Regions from separate parts of the Homo sapiens genome. Here all the other regions are linked to region 1. The links come from fine-mapping of genetic effects on gene expression. A gene starts in region 1. Each other region holds a variant in brackets. All regions are shown on one strand. Distances are from middle to middle.

Evidence for each region. PIP is the estimated chance that this variant, and not a neighbour inherited with it, causes the effect.
Region 2: its variant is fine-mapped to the expression of TSPAN3 in whole blood (GTEx, PIP 0.97).
Region 3: its variant is fine-mapped to the expression of TSPAN3 in whole blood (TOPMed, PIP above 0.99).

Annotation. Positions count from the first base shown.
Region 1 is chr15:77,067,760-77,075,306 of GRCh38, forward strand. TSPAN3 (tetraspanin 3) reads right to left here and starts at 3,350. Exons shown (of 7, transcript NM_005724.6): 1 at 3,133-3,350. The coding sequence starts at 3,195. RefSeq lists silencers at 106-195, 2,817-3,516 and an enhancer at 3,657-3,716.
Region 2 is chr15:77,115,114-77,122,660 of GRCh38, forward strand. It overlaps PEAK1 (pseudopodium enriched atypical kinase 1), which reads right to left. Exons shown (of 10, transcript NM_001385026.1): 10 at 1-206. Among named protein-coding and RNA genes, the nearest start is that of TSPAN3, 48 kb to the left of the region's middle. The variant A/C (reference allele first, on the strand shown) is at 3,468.
Region 3 is chr15:77,038,337-77,044,876 of GRCh38, forward strand. TSPAN3 (tetraspanin 3) reads right to left here. Exons shown (of 7, transcript NM_005724.6): 7 at 3,068-6,540. Among named protein-coding and RNA genes, the nearest start is that of TSPAN3, 30 kb to the right of the region's middle. RefSeq lists an enhancer at 4,802-6,001. The variant G/A (reference allele first, on the strand shown) is at 4,189.

The sequences.
Region 1 (7,547 bases):
ACCAAACAAAGTGTCATGTAAATTCTGGTACAGTTTCTAATTTTAGCAATCTCAAAATCAGCATGCTTTAGAGAAGTGATTCTAACAACTTTCTTCTCTTTACAAATCTTCTGAAATCACACTTTGTCCTAACATCACAGTCTCTAGAGTATGGGACAACCTGGGTTTGAACGCAGGCTGTATCACACCTTGGGTGTGCTACTTTGGCTCAGTCAACCTTAATGTTCTCCTCTAAAATGTACCTAATATTCCCTGCTAGATGGGAAAGCTGTGAGGATATGCCATGTAAAGTGTTTAGCACAGTGCCTGGGGTATAGTAACTCAAATGTTAGTTGCCATTACCCATCATCATCAGATTCCCACAGTTAGTCCACAAACTAATACTTTCTTGGGAGACATACCTAATGCTGTTTCCTCATTAGCTACATTGCACTGTGACACATTTGCCCCCAGCGTATCTGCTTAACTTCCTTATCACAGCTCACAAAAACTTTACTACCCTACTAACCAAGATAAAGCATATTTTTACTAAACATTACCACTTCAGTCTTGGCAATAACCCGCTATGAAAAGCACCACTGAAGTTCAAAATAACTTTCTTCACTGGAATAACAGTACATATATTTACACAATATCCAAAGATTCAGAGGAGTCACTTAGAACTGATATTTTAGAGTAAATAAAAATCTAATTTAAAGAAAATGGTTACTGTATTTCCAATATTTTGTTACATGAACAATTCCAGTCCCTGAGCTTGAATAACCTAGAATTCACCTAATATTCTTCAAAATCAAATAGTTATGGCCATAAATTCACAAGGAACTGTAAAGAGTACAAAGCCACATCTTTACCTCTTAGGTAGCTTACTAGCTGACAACGTGTTTCTCATTTGGGGACCCCTGAAAATTATTTTTCCTTTTAAAAAAGCCTGTAACTCTTAAAAAAGATAAATAAAAAATAAGTGAGAACACACGGTGCTTGGTTTTCTGTTCCTGCATCAGTTTGTTGAGGATGATGGCTTCCTGCTCCATCCATGTCCCTGTAAAGGACATGATCTCATTCTTTTTTGTGGCTGCGTGGTGTTCCATGGTGTATATGTGCCGCATTTTCTTTGTCCAGTCTACCACTGATGGCCATTTGGGTTGGTTCCATGTTTTTGCTATTGTGAACGGTGCTGCAGTGAATATATGCGTGCAAGTGTCTTTATAACAGAATGATTTATATTCCTTTGGGTATGTACCCAGTAGTGGGATTGCTGGGTCGAATGGTAGGAGAACGTCATATAATTTCTACATGCCAAGAAATAGTATTCTTCTTTTCATTTGTTTTCCAGTCATTTAGAAATGTAAATATTATTCTGGGCTCTCAGGTTGTAGAAAAACAGGTAGCTAACCGTTTTGTGCTCTTGGGCCAGAGATTGCTGACTCCTGGTTTATAACGAGATGCTATGAGAATTAATGACTTAATCATTGTAGAATACATTTCTCTTTATGGAATAAAAAATGTTATGGATGCATAAGTAGCAGTAGGTATATAGATACGTATTAAATTAGCAAAAGATGCCCTTATAATGGTCAGATTCACAAATCATGCCACATCTACAAAGAGAAGACTGATACGACTTTTGCTAATGGAACTGGTTCTATATGTGCATTTCATTCTTCACAATAAACTCAAGAAACTGAAAAAATAAAATAAAATAAATAAATAAGCCTGTAACTCAAATTAAAGTATAAGAAACACTGCTCTAATTGGAAAAGAAGAAATCACGGAAATGCCAATGTCGCCTGGGTGTTTGCCAACAGCTACTACCTCCCAGTTAGGACTCTTCACACACAAACGCCCCGAAGGACTCTGGCAATACAAGTGTGTAGCAAGTGCTTTTTAACATATAACCATCCTTTTATGAGACAGCTGTCAGGATATGAAGTTTTATCCCTTGTTGGGGGGTCGGGGGAGGAGGAAAGGATTCTTTCCAGAACAGGTGTGCGTATGCGTGGGAGGGAGGAGCTGAATGGGGAGGAGGAAGAGGCACAGTATGGTTAACCGGAATGTTCAAGGAGTGCTCTGGCGACTGTGGACAGAGCAATCTGTCCAGGGCACTCAAGTGTTTAAGGAAATGACAAGTTCAGAGAGGCAAGGTGATTTGGGACCAGACTGAGGACTTCTGCTCCAAGACCAGGGGAAGGAGTTGAACCTTATTCTACCGCTGAAGCTTCTGTTTTCCTTATTTTCAGATCAAGTGATGTGATAGAGGAAACGTTTTAAAAGATTTATCCGGGTGCAAAGTCCAGATGGGCTGGAGGGTGGAGAGACGGATAGGAACAACTTAGGTTACTATAAAAGTCCCTGATGAGATAAGGACCCAAACTAAGATGACATAAACATTCCTTTCAAAGAGGGTGTACCCCTTAAAAATTCATAAGCCACCTTTTATTGAAAGTGAACTCATCACTTTCAAAATCTTGTGACATCTCCATCATATATTTAACCAAGAGTTATAATCTCACAGTTTGGTCACCCCCATGACCAAAACAAATAGACCGATGTTCTTGGTCAATGGATTATTTGGCTCCTCGAGTTGAAACCCTTCATTTTCTGGGCTGGTGACAGTCAGCCGGTTCTCCACACACAAAGGGCGTTAAGTGGAACCCCCGCCCCGGCTCCGCAGCGTCCCCGCGGATCTGCCCGCCTCGGGACGGCCACTCGTCTGCGAGGCCCCGACAAAGAGCGCGGAACCTGAGCCTCTGGCGAAGATCCTATTTCGAGCCCGACGTCCTGCTACAGTCTGCAATAAGCGCTCTCCGTCCAGCCGGCGACTCCGGGGGGGGGAGACTGGGGCGCCTGGCACGGAGCCAGCCCGCGTGGGCCGAGCGCGGAGGCGCCGGCTGGAGGCCGTGGAGTCCCTGAAGGCCTCCCCTCGCTGTCCTCCGCGCCCAGGCTCCCGGCTTGGTCCGGCAGGGACCTCGCGAAGCGGCCTCACACCCGGCCCTCCCCTCGCCTCAGCCGCCTGAGGGCCCGCGCGCGGCCCCCGCGCGCCCGCCCAGGCCCAAGCCCGGCCCCCACGGGCGCCTCCGCCGCGGCCTCGCCCGGCCCCGCCGCCGGCCCCTCGCTCTGCCCGGCCCCGCTCACCCAGAAGATGAGGTTGAGAAAGACCAGCACGGTCTTGGAGGAGGTGATGCCGCACTGGCCCATGGCGCCGGTGGCCCGCGAAGGCCCGGCCCGGAGAGCGGGGCTGCGCTCACCGAGAGAGCGGCAATGGCGGCGGCGCCTCCTCGCTAGGAACTGCACGGCCTGCGCGGCGCTCCCCGCAGCCCCTGCGCCGTCGCGCAGCCCCGACCCCAGCAAGTGCCTCGCTCCTCCGCGCAGCCGCCGCAGTCCCCTCAGGGCTCCCGCGCCGCTCCCTGGCAACCGAGTCCCGCCCCACGCGGCCGGTAGCTTCAGCCAATCGCCTCTGCGGAGGCTGCAGTGAGGCCACGCCTCTTAAAGGAGCCAAGGCCTCAGCGCCTTTTCTTGGCCTCTGGCCGCCCTTGGACGCAGATGGCTCCCTAGGGAGGTTCTGGTGGACCAAACCCACTCTCCTCCTATGACTATGCCACCCTTATAGATGATTCAGAGCCCTCTGAGTGCTATCTTTCTACCTAGCCCATTCTCCCCTAGGAAGGTTGGAGACACTAATCTCTGCCTGACCAGATTCTCCTGACCAGGTTAAAATCTTGGCAGCACTGTTGGTGAGAAGTGCAAAGAAAAACAACAAATACTTATGGAGAAACTTATTGTACCAGGCGCTGGGCTAGACCTCAGAAGAGTCAGAGAGGAGAAAAGGCTGGTGATGGCGTTAGCAAGGCAGAGACATGTTTGTGTGGGTGAGTGGTTGGGAACAAGTTCTATTCCAGGGTAGTAAGTTTTGGACCAAGATTCGCAACGATTACAGAAACATCTCTTTGCATTGCAACATTTCACATTCTTCCCCCAATCTTGAATCCGTCATAGCAATTAATTATTGGGTGCTCACCCGGTGCCAGGCTCCATTAGTTCATTTAACCCCCACCACAACCCTGGATGGAAGGCACTATGGTTATCAGCCTCATTTTACTGATCGGGTAATTGAGGCTTAGAAAGGTTAAGAAGTTCGCCCAGAGCCACACATAGTAAGTGGTCTAGTGCAAAAAACACATCATCAGTCACACAATAAACTGCCTCTGTTTGCTGTCTTTCCTGCCATTATAATCCTGCACTCCCTCCTTGACCGCGCCCGTAAGGATTTCCATTTACTGGTCTTTATCAGCTCGCTCTCATGCAATCTCCCCCACTCATCACCTTTCCCAGGCACTCTCAGAAGTACCTGTTAATCTCAGCATCCTGTGCATTTACACCAAGCAGCAGCAACAGCCATTTATTCACTCATCAAACTTGCCGCGTGTCCCCTCTGGGCCTCACTGTTGTCGGTGGTGGATATTCCACTGTGAGCAAGACGTATCCTTCCTTCCATGGCTTACATTCGTTCGGGCAGAGGAGGCAGACCATAAACAAACGGGCAAGTGGGTATATGACATGAGGTAGTGTTAGGAAACAATTCAGAGGAAAGGAATAGAGTGATGAGAGGAGTCCTCTCTGAGGAGAGAACATTGGAGGGGACCCAAGGGAGGTGAGGGGAACAGCCCAAAGATGAGAGCAGCAAGGACAAAGGCCCAGAGACCGGAACATGATCACTGTGCTGTAGGAAGGGGAACACAGAGAGCCTAGTGTGCTGGAGGTGAGCGAGGCCGGATCACCAACAGCCTACTACGCCAGGCAGAAGCCTTTGAGCAGACCAGTAACACCATCTAAGTGTTTCAAGTGCCATTCTTGCCATACCATGGAGGTCCTAGTTAAAGAAAGAAAAATGATGGGCTCTCAAACATGATTCCCTTTGAACATCTATCTTCTTGACGCCTCTGCCCTCTGTAAATTTCTCTGTCTGCTTTGCTCTGAGTGCTTTTCCTCCTTTTCCAAAACATCCCCTTTGCATTTCTTCATCCTCATCGTGTCCCTTCTCATTTCCCTGTGAAGGTCTCATCAAGTCCTTCTTGTGCCTTCTCCTTGAGTGGGTCTCAGACCCCCCCCCCCCCCACATTACAATCATCTGGGCCACACAGACAAACTCCATCAGATTCTCTGGGGGCGAGCCTCAGGGAATCAGGTGTTTTTCAAAAACACACCAGGTGATTCGAATATGCTGTTGGGGCTGCAAACCACAGTTCTGAGTTTACAAGCATGGTCATGCCTCTCCTATCCTAAAAAGAAAAGCCTCTCACTTAAACACCATGTTTTACTTTTTCTTTCTTCTCTTAGCCAAAGTTCCTAAAAGAGTCATCTCATCCAGTGCTTCTCAGACTTTGCCTTGCGCACAGATCACCTGAGGATGCAGACTCCAGGTGGTGGGGGTGCAGCTGGGCCCCTCTTTGTAGCAAGGGGCTGGACTTCTGCCCTTGACTCTTTTGCTTCCCACTCACTTTTTTTTGTTGTTGAGATGTAGTCTCGCTCTGTCGCCCAGGCTGGAGTGCAGTGGTGCAATCTCCGCTCACTGCAACCTCCGCCTCCCAGGTTCAAGCGATTCTCCTGCTTCAGCCTCCTGAGTAGCTGGAATTACAGGTGTCCACCACCACACCTGGCTAATTTTTGTATTTTTAGTAGAGACGGGGTTTCACCATGTTGGTCAGGCTGGTCTTGAACTCCTGACCTCATGATCCACCTGCCTTGGCCTCTCAAAGTGTTGGGATTACAGGCGTGAGCCATCGTGCCTGGCCTCACTTTTTGACTCACTGCCATGTGGCATCACCCCCACAGTGCCACCGATATCGCTCTTGTCAATGTTACCAGTGACTTATCTGCTACCCCTTCTCTGAGGTGGCATATATCATGGTTAAGAGCACAGGCTCGGGGACCAGGTAGCCTAGCTGGGTCCTCTCTCTGTGCCTCAGTATCCCCATCATAGGGAGAAAATGATGATGACATTACTTCCCTAATTATCATGTGATTGCTGTGAGAATTAAGTGCATTCATATACATATAGCTGTCAGAAAAGTACCTGGCACACAGGTGCTTTGTAATCACCGGAGTTTACTGTTTCCGAGACCTAACCATATTTGGCTCCGTTGACTTCTTCGTACTCAGAACTCTGCCTTTCCTTAGCTTCCATAACACCATCATCTCTTAGTTCACTGTCTGCCTTTGCAGCAGCACCTGTTCCTTGCACCCATTGGATGTTGGTGTCTCCCAGAGTTCTGGCTTAGGTCTTTTGATTTTCTCAACCAACCTGGGCCAGCTCACCCAGAGCACTGGATTCCGTTGCTATCCACGTGCAGGACTTTCCTGAACCTACAGCTTCAGCCCAGGTCTTTCTCTCAATTTCCTTTCCATGAATCCGACTGCCTGCTGTGTTGCTCCAGGTGGATTCATTTATTGATTCAACACATTTATTGGTTACCTACTCTGTGCCTGACCCTATGCCACGTGGTGGGGGGTGGTTCTAGCAACATAGTGGTTAGACCTGGGTGTGTGATGGCCCCAGGGAGCTTGCAATCCAGAGCGGAGATTCAACGCTAATTATGAAATTATTTATCTAATTGCAACTGGGATAAGCAATACAAAGGAGACCCTCAGGCTGCTGTGAGAGTTTATAACAGGGACCATACCATAACCTTGTATGGGGTTAACTTATATGTGTGCCAGACCCGGCAGGTCCCAAACTGAACTCATAATTTCCCCTCAACCTGCCTCTCCTCTACCTGTGTTCCTTAGCTTCATGAATAGTCCACCCATCCTTTTCCCTGGGCCAAGACTTGGATATTATGACCCACAGTCTCCCTCACTGACCCCTTCTACCCACCGAGAGGATCCTTCTTACTGGAAAATTAGCCTTCCTGGGTAACTCTTGGAACTCCAAATTCCTACTGCCCAGTGCTCAGGAAGTCTGATTTTACCTCCACTGACAAAGTTGCTAAGAGAGCAACTGAGGGCATGAAGTCCCTCCCAAGGAAGCACAGACCCACTCTGTCTTGCTGCATCTGACAGTGGCACACCTGTCTGGGGATGATGGGAGGATGGAGCAATTGTGACTTCGCTTACTGACCCCTGGCCTGTAACTTGCCCTAATAAACTCTGTTCTTCAACCCGTACTGTGTGAAGTAAAATTCACTCTGATCCATGTTGTATGACACAAAGAGTCTATCTTTTACCAAAAAAGAAAAGGTTTATTCATTTTCTTTCCATTGTAAAGCAATGCCTGCTTGTGGTGGTTTGTGCCTTCCATTTTTTTTTTTTTTTTTTTTTTGAGACGGAGTCTCACTCTCTCGCCCAGGCTGGAGTGCAGTGGCACGATCTTGGCTCACTGCAAGCTCCGCTTCCCAGGTTCACGCCATTCTCCTGCCTCAGCCTCCCGATTAGCTGGGACTACAGGCACCTGCCACCATGCCCGGCTAATTTTTTGTATTTTTAGTAGACACGGGGTTTCACCGTGTTAGCCAAGATGGTCTTGATCTCCTGACCTCGTGATCCGCCCGCCT
Region 2 (7,547 bases), 47 kb after region 1:
TCTCCTTTGGCGTCTTCTTCAGTCTCTTCCATGTCATCCTCATCCTTTTCAGGGTCATCTGGATCCTCCCAGGGAAGCAGACGGTTAGGGACTTCAGCAAGGAAATGACCACAGTCCTGCTGAATGTTAAAATGGACAGCCAGACTCTGCCGGACAGCCAAGCTGTGATAATACTGCTGAGATTCTTTAGCTTTGCTCTTACAGATCTGAAAGATAATAAAACAATTCAAAACTCACACTCTCATAACCAGGTTTATGATGTATCAGGGAAGATTAACTGGAAGGTGACTGGTTAGGGACAAACGATCATATAGTAAAGTTGTTCGCAAGGCTTGCCCCATGTTAAGTGGCAATAATAATGGTGGTAACCATTTCTCATGGTTGTCTACATGCCAGGCTGTGGTGAGCACTTTAAGTGTACCATTTTTAGTCCTCACATTAACCTTTCACAGTAGATTGAGGATCTAAGAATTTAAAAAAGAAAAAAAGCCCGGGGTTATGTGTGCAAACCTAAGTTTGTTTAATGCCAAAGCCTGCTCTTTCCACTATAACCTTGCACCTCATCAGAACAACAACAATGAAATAATTTTTCTCTTACTTCTGTAGAGGTTTGTAGCCCAGAATGATACAGCAGGCCAATGGACTCATAATGGAGACCAAAATACCTTATTTCATCACCCATCGCCCTTTGTGTCAACATCTCACAGCTTAGGAGAGTGATATAACATTGGCCAGGTAAACTGTGGGTTTTCCTAACTTTTCAATGAATGTCATTGTGATGGTCACAACACTGGCACTCATGGTTCACTGGTAGGGTTGAGAGAGTCACTGGTCTGACCTAGTCAGAACAAAGCCAACATTTCAATGGTGGTTTTCTGAGTTTTATGCTTTCTCTTAACAGGCCTCATTTAATACCCACTATTGAGGCAATAAAACCTTTCATAAAGAACTTTACTAAGTGGTTATGGATCAAGGAAGAATTTTTTGATCAAAAAAAGTTAGCCAAGAGTTCTACATACTGTGACGATTCTATTTCTACTCTTAAGGGGTTATCAAAGCAAAAAGTAAGTAAAACCACCCCCAAATGGGTTATTCTCATGCTATAGAGAGGCTGACCGTGGAAGACTGAGTCTCTAATACTAGTTCATGGATCATAATAGTCTGGTCTGGAGTCTGCTCCACAGCCCTGTTAACTGAGGGTCATTCTCTGCTCTCCCTCCTCAGCAGAGGCACACTGCCACATTACAAATATCAAAGGCTCCCAGGAACATGCACTCTCTGTAGTGTTTACACTGCATGTTTATTACAATAATACAGAAAAGCAAAACTTAAAAAAGCAATTTCTAGTCATTTTTATTTAAAAAGAAAAATGTACACATTCTTAGGAAGATTCAGATAGGACCCAGTTCTGAGAAGCAGCACATTCTGATTTCCATTCAAATAGATTAAAAAAAAAAAAAGATCAAAGACAAGGGAGTCTCAGCGGAGAAAAGCATCTCTCTCTCTCTTTCTCTTATTCTCTAGTTTATCATATTTACTACAGTTAAAGAAGCCTGATATCAGTGATCAGTGCCATGGAAATCAATCAATCTATCTATCTATCTATCTATCTATCTATCTATCTATCTATCTATCTATCTATACCTCAGCACAAGTTCCTTCAAGTCTTCTACTACCTATCTAATTCAGTTTGAGGATATACTAAGTATTTCTTTTTTAAGCAAACTTCTGGTCTTGAACAGACATCCCCAGCCTGAGTTCAAGTTCAAACATATATCTTTCAGAAAATATTATCTCTGGAAAGCTCTCGAAGTCTTAGTATATGCAGTATAATATATAATCCTATATGCTCATCAATCATAACATTTGTTATTTTTGTAACTGCACTGTTGGCAATATTTCACATTTAAGTGTTACCAGGTATTTAAAAATTCTATACTAGTCATTGTTTAGTTGTATAGGAGTTGGATCCAGCACATGGCACCATTATCCCCATTGCCAGTTAAATTTGCTCAATATTATATTGTCTTCTGGAATGAAAGCTCAAGGGTCTCAACTCTTCATACCACTAAATTTGGCTGAATCAGATTGGATGGTTAAACTCTAGCTGTTACATTATAAAAAATGACACTCTCCAAGGGCTTGGGAGGCCTGGGATTTAGCTTTGCTACTAGCTGTATAACCTTGAGCATTTCACTAATTTCTCTGGGTCTCAGTCTCCCTATTAAAGGAGACAATATGAAGAACACTGAAATCTACTTCACAGGGCAGTTGTGAGGATTAATTGGGATCAAGTATATAGCGTACATCTGTAAACTACAAAGTTGTACAAATGCAACACTGATAATGACTAAAGCAGTTAACAACTTGCAAATGTCAAACTAATGCAATCTTAGAGAATCCTAATTTTTTGAAACAATGAGCAAAACAGAAAAATAGATCTTTATTTTGAGTCCCGACAGCCACCTGCCACAGCAGTGAGGCTCTCTGATCACAAATTTGATAGAGGACAGACAAAAAGAAACTGCTAACATTCAATACCTCCAAGCCAGGGTCAGCCCTGACAAACAAGTTAACACCAGCAGTATGTTAGAATCCAAGACAGGGCAACCTAAAGCTATGAGAGAGAATTGTTTGGCCAAGTCTAGTTTTTAACTATGTCAAGTCAGGCTGAAAAAAAAAACTGTGACCTTGTAGTTTAATATTAGAAGCAGAGAAGGTATTCTAATTGTGACTCGTATTTTAATTGTGATATTCTAATTATATCTAGACATTCACACAGACACACACATTTTTATAAGGTCCTCCAGAGCTTTGTGAGTAGACAAGAATGTGGATACTACAATAAGAATTTATGTTTAGCTTCACAGATCTACTTGAGATAAAGGATCAAAGTGATTTACGAAGAAGAAATGATAAATTGTTTCACGATTTTGGATGCTCTAAAGGAAAATGGTCTCCCTAGATAGATAACCTGAGTGGGCAGCACTTCCTTATCTCTTCATTTTATAATACATAGACAGGTTGAAGAATAATGAGTCACTCTAGCTTTAAGAGCAAAGGCAAAAGGGAGAAGACTAGAGTGTAAAAGAGGAGGGAAAAAGAGTGATTTTACTTGGTTCATAACCCTGAAAACAGTTACAACCCAAACACAGACCAATGGAGATTTCCATAATAGGATTTTGCTTGATGGGTATCTCATAAATCTTTATTATGGAGCCTGCAATGATGTTAATTTAGGTAGGAGTATTATATTATTCTAGGTACCACATTGTAGCCATTTTTCAAATATTAATAACTCCTTTAGTTAAAAAAAAAACCTCAAAATGACCTGACTTCAGATAACAAATTTCTAGTTCAAAAGTTATTTCAGAAAACAAACCAATTTTTCAGAACAAATGGATAGGGTTCTTCCTGTCAAATTTTTTCCTTCTGCCCTTACCCAGTATTTTCTCTACCAGGGATTA[A/C]AGTAACTTCTTCTTGGCTCTCATTATCTTTCTTGAAAAGAATTCACATTCCTTCTTTATAAAGAGTAGCTGGCATCTCAAGAGTAGCAGGAGGAATCTCAAGAAAGATTCTACTTGTTCATGCCAGCTACTCTTTAATCTATAAATGATTACTTCAGGACTCCTCCTAGGACCCCCAAAATTTAAAAATAGGAATAAAAATAAACTAGAACTGGAATGGTCCTACATCTTCATTAAACATTCCCTTTTCTAATAGGGGAAAAATCACCTCATATTTGCCTTGGCTATGTTTGGGAAAATCTACTTAAAATGCTGTGAATTTGGCAGATTCTGTGCTGTCTATATTTTCTGAAAGGCAAGAAAAAATGCTATGAGAGCCTGAGCCACAGTGACACTAGAGGGAGCTGCAATATCAATATCCAGGAGTCATTTACTTATAAACTGTGCAGCAGGAGAACAAAACCAGGCTGCTGAAGGTTGAATCTTCTTGTAAAATACACCATAGGGCCTCTTTCTGGATAAGCTTTTGCTTCTATGATGCTGGCAATACCAAATGCATGCCAAGGGAACTCCTCGTGTGAAGAGCACAGACAGGAAGAGAAGCCCATCCTGGGCACAGTGACCCTCGCCCACTTGCCAGCTCACAGGAAATGCCCGCTTGAGCTATTCTCCAAAGGAGTCAGAGGAACATCAAAAGGGACAGCCAGTCAGCTGGTATATACATATGCACCAACATGAATAACCTACAGTTGCAAAAACAGAGGCTTGAAGGGAAACTGGCTGCTTGTCTGGGTTAATAAAGATCAGTGAGGACAGAGAAGGGAAAAATATTAATTCATTATCAATTGATCATTCAAACAAGTATCTCATGGCTCCTGAGCACTTCCCATCTGTAAGACACAGCATCCTGAAGCATTCTGACCAGATTCCTAAATACAGAGGGTGGGGACCCTTTAACCACTGATAAATCATCTGTTGGAAAACTGGGGGAGAGGGGAAACAACATATTGTCTTCCAGAATCATAGCCAAATTACCCTCTCCTGAGACCTTCTCAGACTCGGGTCAAAGAACCCAACATTTACAATCTTAGCAGGGAAACAGAGCTTGAAAATGATTCATCATGCACAACCTGAAAAGTTTAATTCCAAACATACATTTCAGTTCAGGGGCTCATTTTCCATGTTGCTCATGACAACTGCCCTGCATACCTTTAAGGCAAATTTGTCATTAAAAAGCATTTATGTTTGTAATAACTTCAACCTAGAGAGCTAACTTCTAAAAAGTAGACCATCAGGGGCTTTGACTGTAAAGTCCCATTAAAAATAGCTGGGGAGAAGATAGTGCTGTCTAACACTACTGAACCTTTCAGAATGATCACAAAGCCTGGGACCTGTGAGAGGACATACCTCTTGATGCTCTCTCAACAACAGATACTCTGTTTAAGGCAACTAAGTCAGAGGGATAGGGGGAAAGGTGGACCTGTGCAAAACTGGATGATATGACTATGGAATTAATCTGTCGTTGAATGGCATGGTGTTACTCATTCTTCTTCATTGACCCTTTTTCCCAAAGGTTCCGTGAAGTGCTGGTGTTTGGAGTGCCTGCTCTCCATCCTAGTTTTTCATTGACAAACTCTCTTCCGCAAGCTTGCTCATAGCTTCAACCATGTCATATACACTACTGACTTCCGTGTCTACATTTGTAACGCACCCTTGTCTTTGGGCTTTAGGCTCATCTATACAATGACCTACTTGATTTCTTCCCATATATGTCCTAACCCATAGATTACTTAAACTCAACATAACCAAACCTGAACTCTCCGTCCCACCAAACTCACTGCTTTCCCAGTACTCCCTCTCTTGATGAATGGCTTTGTTACCTGGATGAGAAACCAAATTCACTTTGGATTTCTCCTGCATCTTCACTCCCTATGGCTAATTAATTATCAACTCTCATTGACTTTTCTTCTAAATAACTTTCAAATTATCCTCTTTTCTCCATCTCTATTGCTACCTTCATCACTTGCCTGGACAACCACAAAAGCTTTCCAACTGGTCTGCCTGCCTCTAATGTGATCCCCTCGAATACATCTTCCACATGGCTACAGAGCCATTAAAAAACAACAGCTGGTATTTCCTCCTTATTTAAATTTCCTAGCGGCTCCGCTTTATCCTCATAGGAGAAAGTCCTGGCCTTGCCTCCCTTTCCAGTCCTACTTCCCACCTGTGTTCCATTTGCTCTTACTATATTGAGCTATCTGCAGCCGGCCACCCACTCTACCCTCCAGGTGTTCTCTCAGTTTGGGGCTCCTTGTCACCCCTCATCTGCCTGAGGGATTCCTACTTCTTTTAAAGCCCTTCTCAGGCATTACTTTATCAGAGAGAGGAAGTGCTAAATACCCTAAACCCCCTTTCTGTGTTACTTCTATATCTTGTACATATCTCTATTATTGCAGTTATCACATTTTTTATCTTTAAAAAATTTTTGTTTTTTATAATTTTTTTCAATTTTATTTTAGATTCAGGGGGTACATGTGCAGGTTTGCTACCTGGGTATATCTCATGATGCTGAGGTTTGAGGTACAACTGATCCCATCACCCAGGTACTGAACACAGTACCCAACAGTTTTGCAACCCTTGTCCCCTTTCCTCCCTCCTCTGACATTTTTTTGTCTATCTTACAAGCAGATACTTGTATCTTTAGGGCCTAGCACAGAGCAAGGCACGTAGTACTTGCTCCATATGTCTGTAAAAGATTCTGAGAAAAGGCAGCATCTGATCCAGTGCTGCCATAGGGCTTATTTACTCGGAACAGGTAGAATATATGAACAGCTTTTATGAAACAGATAAAAGTTGGCAAGGTGATGGGGTGGGGGCAACGGCAGATAAACCTGAATAATAAACACTCATGAATGACCTGACTACACAAATGAGTGAAATCTGATCAGTGAGGGCTGTCTGTTGAGTCCAGGCTGCCCTGGGGGCTTGCTGATTTTGTACTGCACAAAACTACAAAACAACATGGCTCTCTGTCATTCGATTCAATTTTCTCTCCTTTGCCCCAAAGAAAGCAATAATTACAAAATATAAGACTCTTCAAAAATATTCTACATTAGCTCTGATTTTTCCATTATGGGCCCAGTATGCCTTCAGCCTACTTCCAGTTTATCAGCAGGGAATCTCATTTCCATCTCACTCTATGCATTCTATAGTGCCTCAGTGAACCTTAAGTGAGATGGATGCTATAGGGAATGAATTGTGGAGGGACAAAAATGAGAAACATTAACAATCATACACATTACACCATCTGTGCCATTTTGTCATATCACACAAAAGTACAACTGCAAATGGGAGTGAGCATAGAATGAAACCCTGCAACTTCTAAATTGATATCCAGTATTTGGTATAATCCCACTCTAAGAATACAGGCTGATCAGTGATTGACCTCAATTCCTTGATCTGCCTAGGAGGAGTATTGCTATACTTGCTGCTACAGAGCTAAGACCCACACACACTCAATGCTGTTACAACTATATTCAAAATAGATTAAGTGTTTAATATATAAAACGCTGTGTGGGCCCAAAGTACTCAGGACTCCATGTTGTAGGAATCTGCTATGAGAACTGTTGGGTAGGCCAGATAATTTACAGCTTGAATTGCTGCAAAAATGTTCACATGCCCAAGAAAGTGATTTTGGATCCTAGAAGAGAAATTCAAGAAGGTAACTGTGTAAGATTTCACCATTTTATTTGTGACTTGTACTCACCAAAGCTTTTCACTCTCCCACTCAGCATGTGTATCCAATGAAAATAACTTGTGTTCCTGAGCCAGTAATTTAGGCTGACAGAATGATGCCCAGGATGTTCACACTAGAGAAACTGAGGCACAGAGTAGTCCAATAACCAGCTCAGGGCCCACATTAGGAATTCAATTAACTTGAATTCCAACTTGTGATTCTCAACTATATCCTCTCACCTCATTAATTAAAGCCATGCTCCCTTTTCCCACCAGACAACTCATTTTGATTCCAGGTTTACACAAACATCCAAAACCTCTCCTTCCTAAATCAATTCCCAGTTG
Region 3 (6,540 bases), 30 kb before region 1:
GGGGGAGAGAGAGAGAAAGGAGGGAGGGGGAGAGAGAGAGAAAGGAGGGAGGGGGAGAGAGACAGAATGCCCATCTTTATACCCTGATCTTTACTTGAGCAAAAAATTGGGTTCAGTTAAGCAAGCATGAGACATGGACATTCTAATGACTCATGTGTGGCCCACACTGTACCTGATGATGGGGGTGTGGTGCTAAAAGGGGCCTCAAAGAGCTCACTCAGCCCAGGAGGACAGACAGCCACCCTCTAGGCCCTGAGATGTGAGGCAGTAAGTGGGGGGAGTGGTTCCAGGGGCTGGTGCAGGCCATCCAGCAGAGGGGAGGGTGGCTTGTCTGGGAAGTGGTGACTGGGCTGGAGAGCAACTCTGGAAGAACACAGGGAGCAGATGGACAGGACTTGGTAACTTACGGGATGGGAGATGGGTGGGAAGAGAGGGAAAGTGAGGAGGTGAGGAGTGACTTCGGAGCCCAGACTTGAAGATGGGCTCCTCCCCAGGTGGAGGAGCTGGAGGGGAGTGGTGCGGGAACAAAGCCTGGGCGAGGGCTGGGAGAGGCGGGACAGCCGCGTAGGCTTACCACTGGGTGGGGCCATGTGTGGGCAGGGAAGGGAAAGGAAAGAGTAAAAAGGTATCAATACTTTACTTATTCCTTGAAGATGCCTTGTCATCTTGATTGAACATTCCATTCCACTGCAAAGATTTTTTAAAAAACCTTTGGCCTAGATATTTATCATCATCTCTGACAGGTGCCGCAGTGTCTGTGGGCCCCAGAGCGTGATGGGTAACAAGTGCTAGATAACAGAGTCTGTTCTCCAGTCATTCGGGTGGCCAGAGAATAGAACTGAAAGCAACTCTTGGGTCACAATTTATGCCAGGGGGAGAATGCCCACAAATGAATCCAAGTCAGATTCACTGCTTCTGCAGCTTTCTCCGTTCTCCCATCACTGGGCACCACCTCAGCTGCTGGGAACCAACTGCATGGATGGATGGCCTTCCCAGCAGAGACGGTGCCAGATAAAGAGGGAGTTAGCGTGTAATTGGGTGTATAAATAACTGCAGCCTCTTCCTGACCGAGGGCCACTCAAAGACAGCAAGGAGCAGGAGGACAAGCATGGTCTCTGAATCACAACATCAGGGCCTGAATCCAGGCTCACGCTTTCTTGGGTGGTCTTAGGCAAGTCACAATTTCTCTGGGCCTGTTTCAGCATCAGTAAGATGGGTGCAATATGCCCCCATGCAAAATCTCCTAAGGTTCAAATTAAACAATGATTAGGTATTACTTACCAGCAAGGGATACCACTTTTAAGGAAAAGACCCACAACCTCTGAATCTTGGCTACACTCAACAGCAGCTTTGCGCTTGGCATAATCCCCCTCGCTCAGCACACCCTCTGGGACAGCTGTGGTTATGTCAGTGAATCCTTCGCAATGATGACAAAAAGCAGCAACTCACGTTTGGCCAAACTGGAAGCACGCGCCACTGGTGTCCAACACCTAATTCCAACCACTCTCACAGCCTTTCCTAGGCCAAGAAACCTCAGCATAAGGGTCACCTGCTTGCCTTGGTCTGACTACCTGGGTGTCTGCCTATTTCTCCATCCCGGCTTTTGAGCCAACACAAGCCCAGGACAAGGTCGCACCAGCAACTGGGCTCGCTGCCCTCAGCACCCTCACGGGATTATCAAACTGTGCTCAGTAGAGCCCTCTTAGGGGCCAGTGGGAGGAGAAAGGGGGCACCCACTCCACTTCGAGATCTACTTGGAGAGTTTACATATTGCACGTGCAGTGGTTCTCAACCCAGCTGCTCAACGGAGTCACCTGAGCAGATTTTCAAATGCTGATGGTTGGGTCCCACCTCAGACAAACTGAAACCAAATCCCTGCAAACTGAGCTTGCGCATAAATATTTGAAACATTCTCCTGGTGATTCTGATACGCAGCCGGAGCTGAGAAACCCCTGGCTAACAGGATCTTCAGCTAAACATTTTTAAAAGTTTGAAAAACAGTTATGGCACCATAGTGACTTATCTCAGGTGATAGTGCCCACTACCTGCCAGATGGTGGGATAACAAAGATCAGCAAGTAGGCCGGGCACGGTGGCTCACGCCTGTAGTCCCAGCACTTTGGGAGGCGGAGGCGGGCGGATCACGAGGTCAGGAGTTCGAGACTAGCCTGACCAACAGGGTAAAACCCCGTCTCTACTAAAAATACAAAAATTAGCCAGGCGTGGTGGTGCGCGCCTGTAATCCCAGCTATGTGGGAGGCTGAGGCAGAACTGCTTGAACCCAGGAGGCGGAGGTTGCAGTAAGCTAAGATCGTGCCACTGAACTCCAGCCTGGATGACAGGGCAAGACTCTGTCTCGGGGAAAAAAAAAAAAAGATCAGCAAGTCTCTTTTCTACCCTATAATTTCTACATCTGTCTTACTTTCTTCATTGGATAAACTCAGGGGAGCAGGATTTATGTATGACTCAACTTCCCCACAAATAGCAATGCAGCAGCACCATTCAGTAGATACGAGGTTTCTGCCACGTCACTGTGTTACACCCTCAGGAGACCTCACAGATCTCACAGGCACTGCAATAGAAAGCCACGTGCAACACACAAGTTATTTTCAAGAACTGCAAGGATGCACCCAAAAAGCAGGTGCTGTTACACACCAACAACCACCAACTCGGAAATAAGTTAGGAAAACCATTGCATTCACAATAGCTACAGACATTAAGCTTCACAGAAAAGTTTCCTAAGTAAACTCTGTTAAGATCCGAAAGAAAAAAACCCAATAACCAATCAAACCGGGCAGAGGACAGAAGCAAAATTCAGAAGATACAAATGGCTGAAACACCTTTAAAAGCATCCTGGCCCTAGCTAACAGTCAAATAAACACATATTTTCATCTCTCAGAATGGAAGAAAAGATGAAGGCTGATCACACCAAAAGTGTCAACAAGGGTGTAAAGAAATGCACATTTCATTCACTGCTGGTGGGAATAGAAATTGATATAAGCTTTCTGGAGAGCAACCAGATGTATCCATGAAAATGTTTAAACGTGACTTTTTTTTTTTTTTTTTTTGAGACAGAGTCTTGCTCTGTCACCCAGGCTGGAGTGCAGTGGCATAATCTCGGCTCACTGCAACCTCTGCCTCCCGGTTCAAGCGATTCTCCTGCCTCAGCCTCCCAAGTAGCTGGGATTACAGGTGCATGCCACCAGGCCCTGCTAATTTTTTGTATTTTTAATAGAGATGGGTTTCACCATGTTGGCCAGGCTGGTTTTGAACTCCTGATCTCAAGTGACCCACCTGTCTCGACCTCCCAAAGTGCTATGATTACAGGCATGAGCCACTGCACCCAGCCAAACATGACTTTTCCATCCAGAGTAAATCCAACTAACAAGAATCCACCCTTGGAGTTCATGTAAAAATACATGACACAGGGTGATGAAAGTGCTTTGAAACTAGATACAGGCAGTGGTTCTATAGCATGGTGAATGTACTCAAGGCAACTTCTTTACTTTAAAATCGTTAATTTTATGCCATGTGAATTGCATCTCAATAAAAATTGTTTTCATTTTAAAAATTGTAAATGACTGCAGTGTGTGTATAGAGATGATCACTGTGGCGAGTAGTGGAGGCACTGGAGGCAGCCTGCAGGCCTGCCCTTTATACACCTTGGTTAATCATGGTACTAATGTACCCACACAGCTAACACAATGGAATGACAAATCCTACAGTTAGACATGGAAGGAGCATCAGACTATGTTGTGAAGACAGAAAGAGGATCTTGTAGGATAAAATTCCTATTAGCAAAAAGCAAAAACCAAAACCCAATACCAAGTCTGTTTCTGTGTATGTAGTCTGCAAAGACACATGCCATTGCTGAACTGCTGAACTTGCTTCCCTGTGGGTACTTCTTTACAGATGTCTGTATTGTTCACATTTTTTAAAGCACCAATTACTTTTGTTTAAAAAAATACACTTAAAAAAGGCAGTAAGACAAGCTCTGTCAATCATCTATAGGACAAGAAGCAAAGACACCCCAGCTGCAATAAGCACACCTAGTGCCAGGGACCAGGGCTCCTGGGACAAACACTGATCCATGGCTGGTGCCCAGGGGCCTGGAACATCTTGTTAGATCAGAAATTAGGGGAGTGCTTCCAAAAATGCTGGGATATAGGAGGCACTCGAAGGGGCTCTC[G/A]CTGGCCAAGTCGGGAACTATCTGAGGAACTCTTCCCCCATCCCCAAAGGTCAATGATGAAGTCGACTTTTGAAAAAATGGGAATCCATAGTGGATATATGAAAATAAATGAAGGAGAAGGGAGGGATGACTGGCAAATGAGGAAGGAGTGCTGGGCTGCAGAAACGTCGCTTGGCAGTCATCATAAAGATTGAATCAGGCCAGAATCAGCAACATTTGCTGAACCTGGTCGGGGAATGGGGAAGAGTCTCATGAGGAACAGGGTATGTACATGGAGACAGTGTGTCTCCAGAGATTTCTTATTAGTTGAAAAGAAAAAAACAGTAACCATGCTATGGAGAAAGTGGACACACCTCGACTAGGTGTGCCAGGTACTCATTTATTGCCTCTTAACTCCAAATTTCCCTGACCTTGCCCTTCCTTGTCACACTGAAGAGGGGGCTCTGAAAACTCCTTTACCCTTTGCCAGCCTGACCCACAGTGGGCTCTGAAGGGGCTAACAAGGCTAGAGGAGGAAGATGGCCTTTTTCTTCTGTCTCCTTTCGTCCTGCACGGGTCCCAGCAGCATTCCCCACCGTGACAGCTCTCTGCTCCTGTGGCTTGGCGGGGGGGCACCTCCAGTAAGTTGATTCTCCAGCATGGGACAGGCAGCATATCCCAGGCAACCACAGCCACCCCTCGGAGGTCTCTCCACCTTGGGGAACCTCCTCTGAGTTTCCACGTTCCTTCTCTGTTTTCTCTTCCCTTAGCCCTAGGGGTGATGGCTGTTCTCTGCTAAGCTGCTTTAGAGCTCTTTTTTATCCCTTTTAGTAGTTAACTACCTTCTACACAGTTAACAATTACTTATATTAAAACCTTCCTGTTCACATTTCCTCCTCCTTGGACTAGATGATCAAAACGAACATCCCCACTGTGGGGCAGATGGGCATTGTGTGCCTCGAGATGCGATGCCCTGAGAGGCCGCGTGACGCAGGTAGTGGTTCAGCCACCTGGAATGCAAAACCAAATCTAATCACGAGGAAATCGCAGACAAACACAGATAAGCAGCACCACCTAAAACGAACTGTATCCTTACAAACTGTTCCTATCATCACAGACAAAGCTATGGAAATGATCCAGATTAAAGAAGACCAAGGAGACATGACAACTCAACTGATTACCTGATCCAGACCAGATCCAGCACCGCAGAGGGAAAGGTGCTATAGAGGACACGATGCGGCCAATGGGAATATGAGTGGTGAGGTATTCTATCAGTGTTAGATGGACGGAATTTGACAACTGTACTGCAGTCGTCAGAGAGTATCTTCTTCTTGGTAAGTACCCACTGAGGTATTAGGGGTAAAAGGCCATGACAGGTGTGGAGGCAGCAGGAGGGAGGGAGAGGGAGAGACAGGGGGTTGGCGCAAGGGAGAGAGAACGCACACACATTTGAGAACACACATGACAGATAGAATGGGACGAAATGTTAATAGGTGTATCTGGGCAAAGGATATTTGAGCCTCATTTGTACAGTTTTTATTCTTGCAACTTTTCTGTAGCTTTGAAATCATTTCCAAGTAAAATTAACTTTTTTAAAAGAGGCCATACAATATAGCAGTGGTCCTCAACCAGGGCTGTGTCCTGGACACACCCTAGAGCACCTTAGATGCTCTGGGACCCAGGCATCTGTAGTTCTCAAAGTGCCCCGGTGCTTCCAATGTGCAGCCACGGGCAGGAAACACCAGCCTAGTGGGTGAGCTCACTCACTAAATTTCAGACATGACGAGCAGTGCTTTTGCTCTCTGAAGAACAAGCACTGGGTAATGCCAACACCTAGCCTCAGCTACACGGGGGAAGGGCAGAAACAAGATGTTGAATTTGCATGGCCCTGGCCAACACAGACAACATCCCCTTCTAGTGGTTCCCAGGCAAGAGAAAAAGGCATTTCCAGGACAACTGTGCCAGGAATTAAACACAAGTTAAAACTGGCAGGAGCTGGAATGGTTTCCCAGACCTCAGAGCTACCTCCCCACCTCCATCTTTTTGGTCTCACTGGTAATATGGCCAGTCTGGGTCCAGCTGGCAGAGCACACGGGAGGAGGCTGCTCTCTCACCAGGCAAACTGAGGACTGAGTACAGGAAGGGTGTGGAGAATTATCCTCTTGGGCAAGTTGAAGAACAAGGCTACTGCTTGGCATATTTCCCAAAGCCATTTCCCACTCTAGAGGCCCTGTTCTGTCCTGTAGAAAGAGTGGAGAACAACCAACATCACAGTCCAAATATTGCTCACCTCAGGGCCAGCCTGTGACAGGGTACCCACAGGATGGTTCATATTGAAAACTGGGGGGACCATGCTCGGGGGAGGTGGTGGTA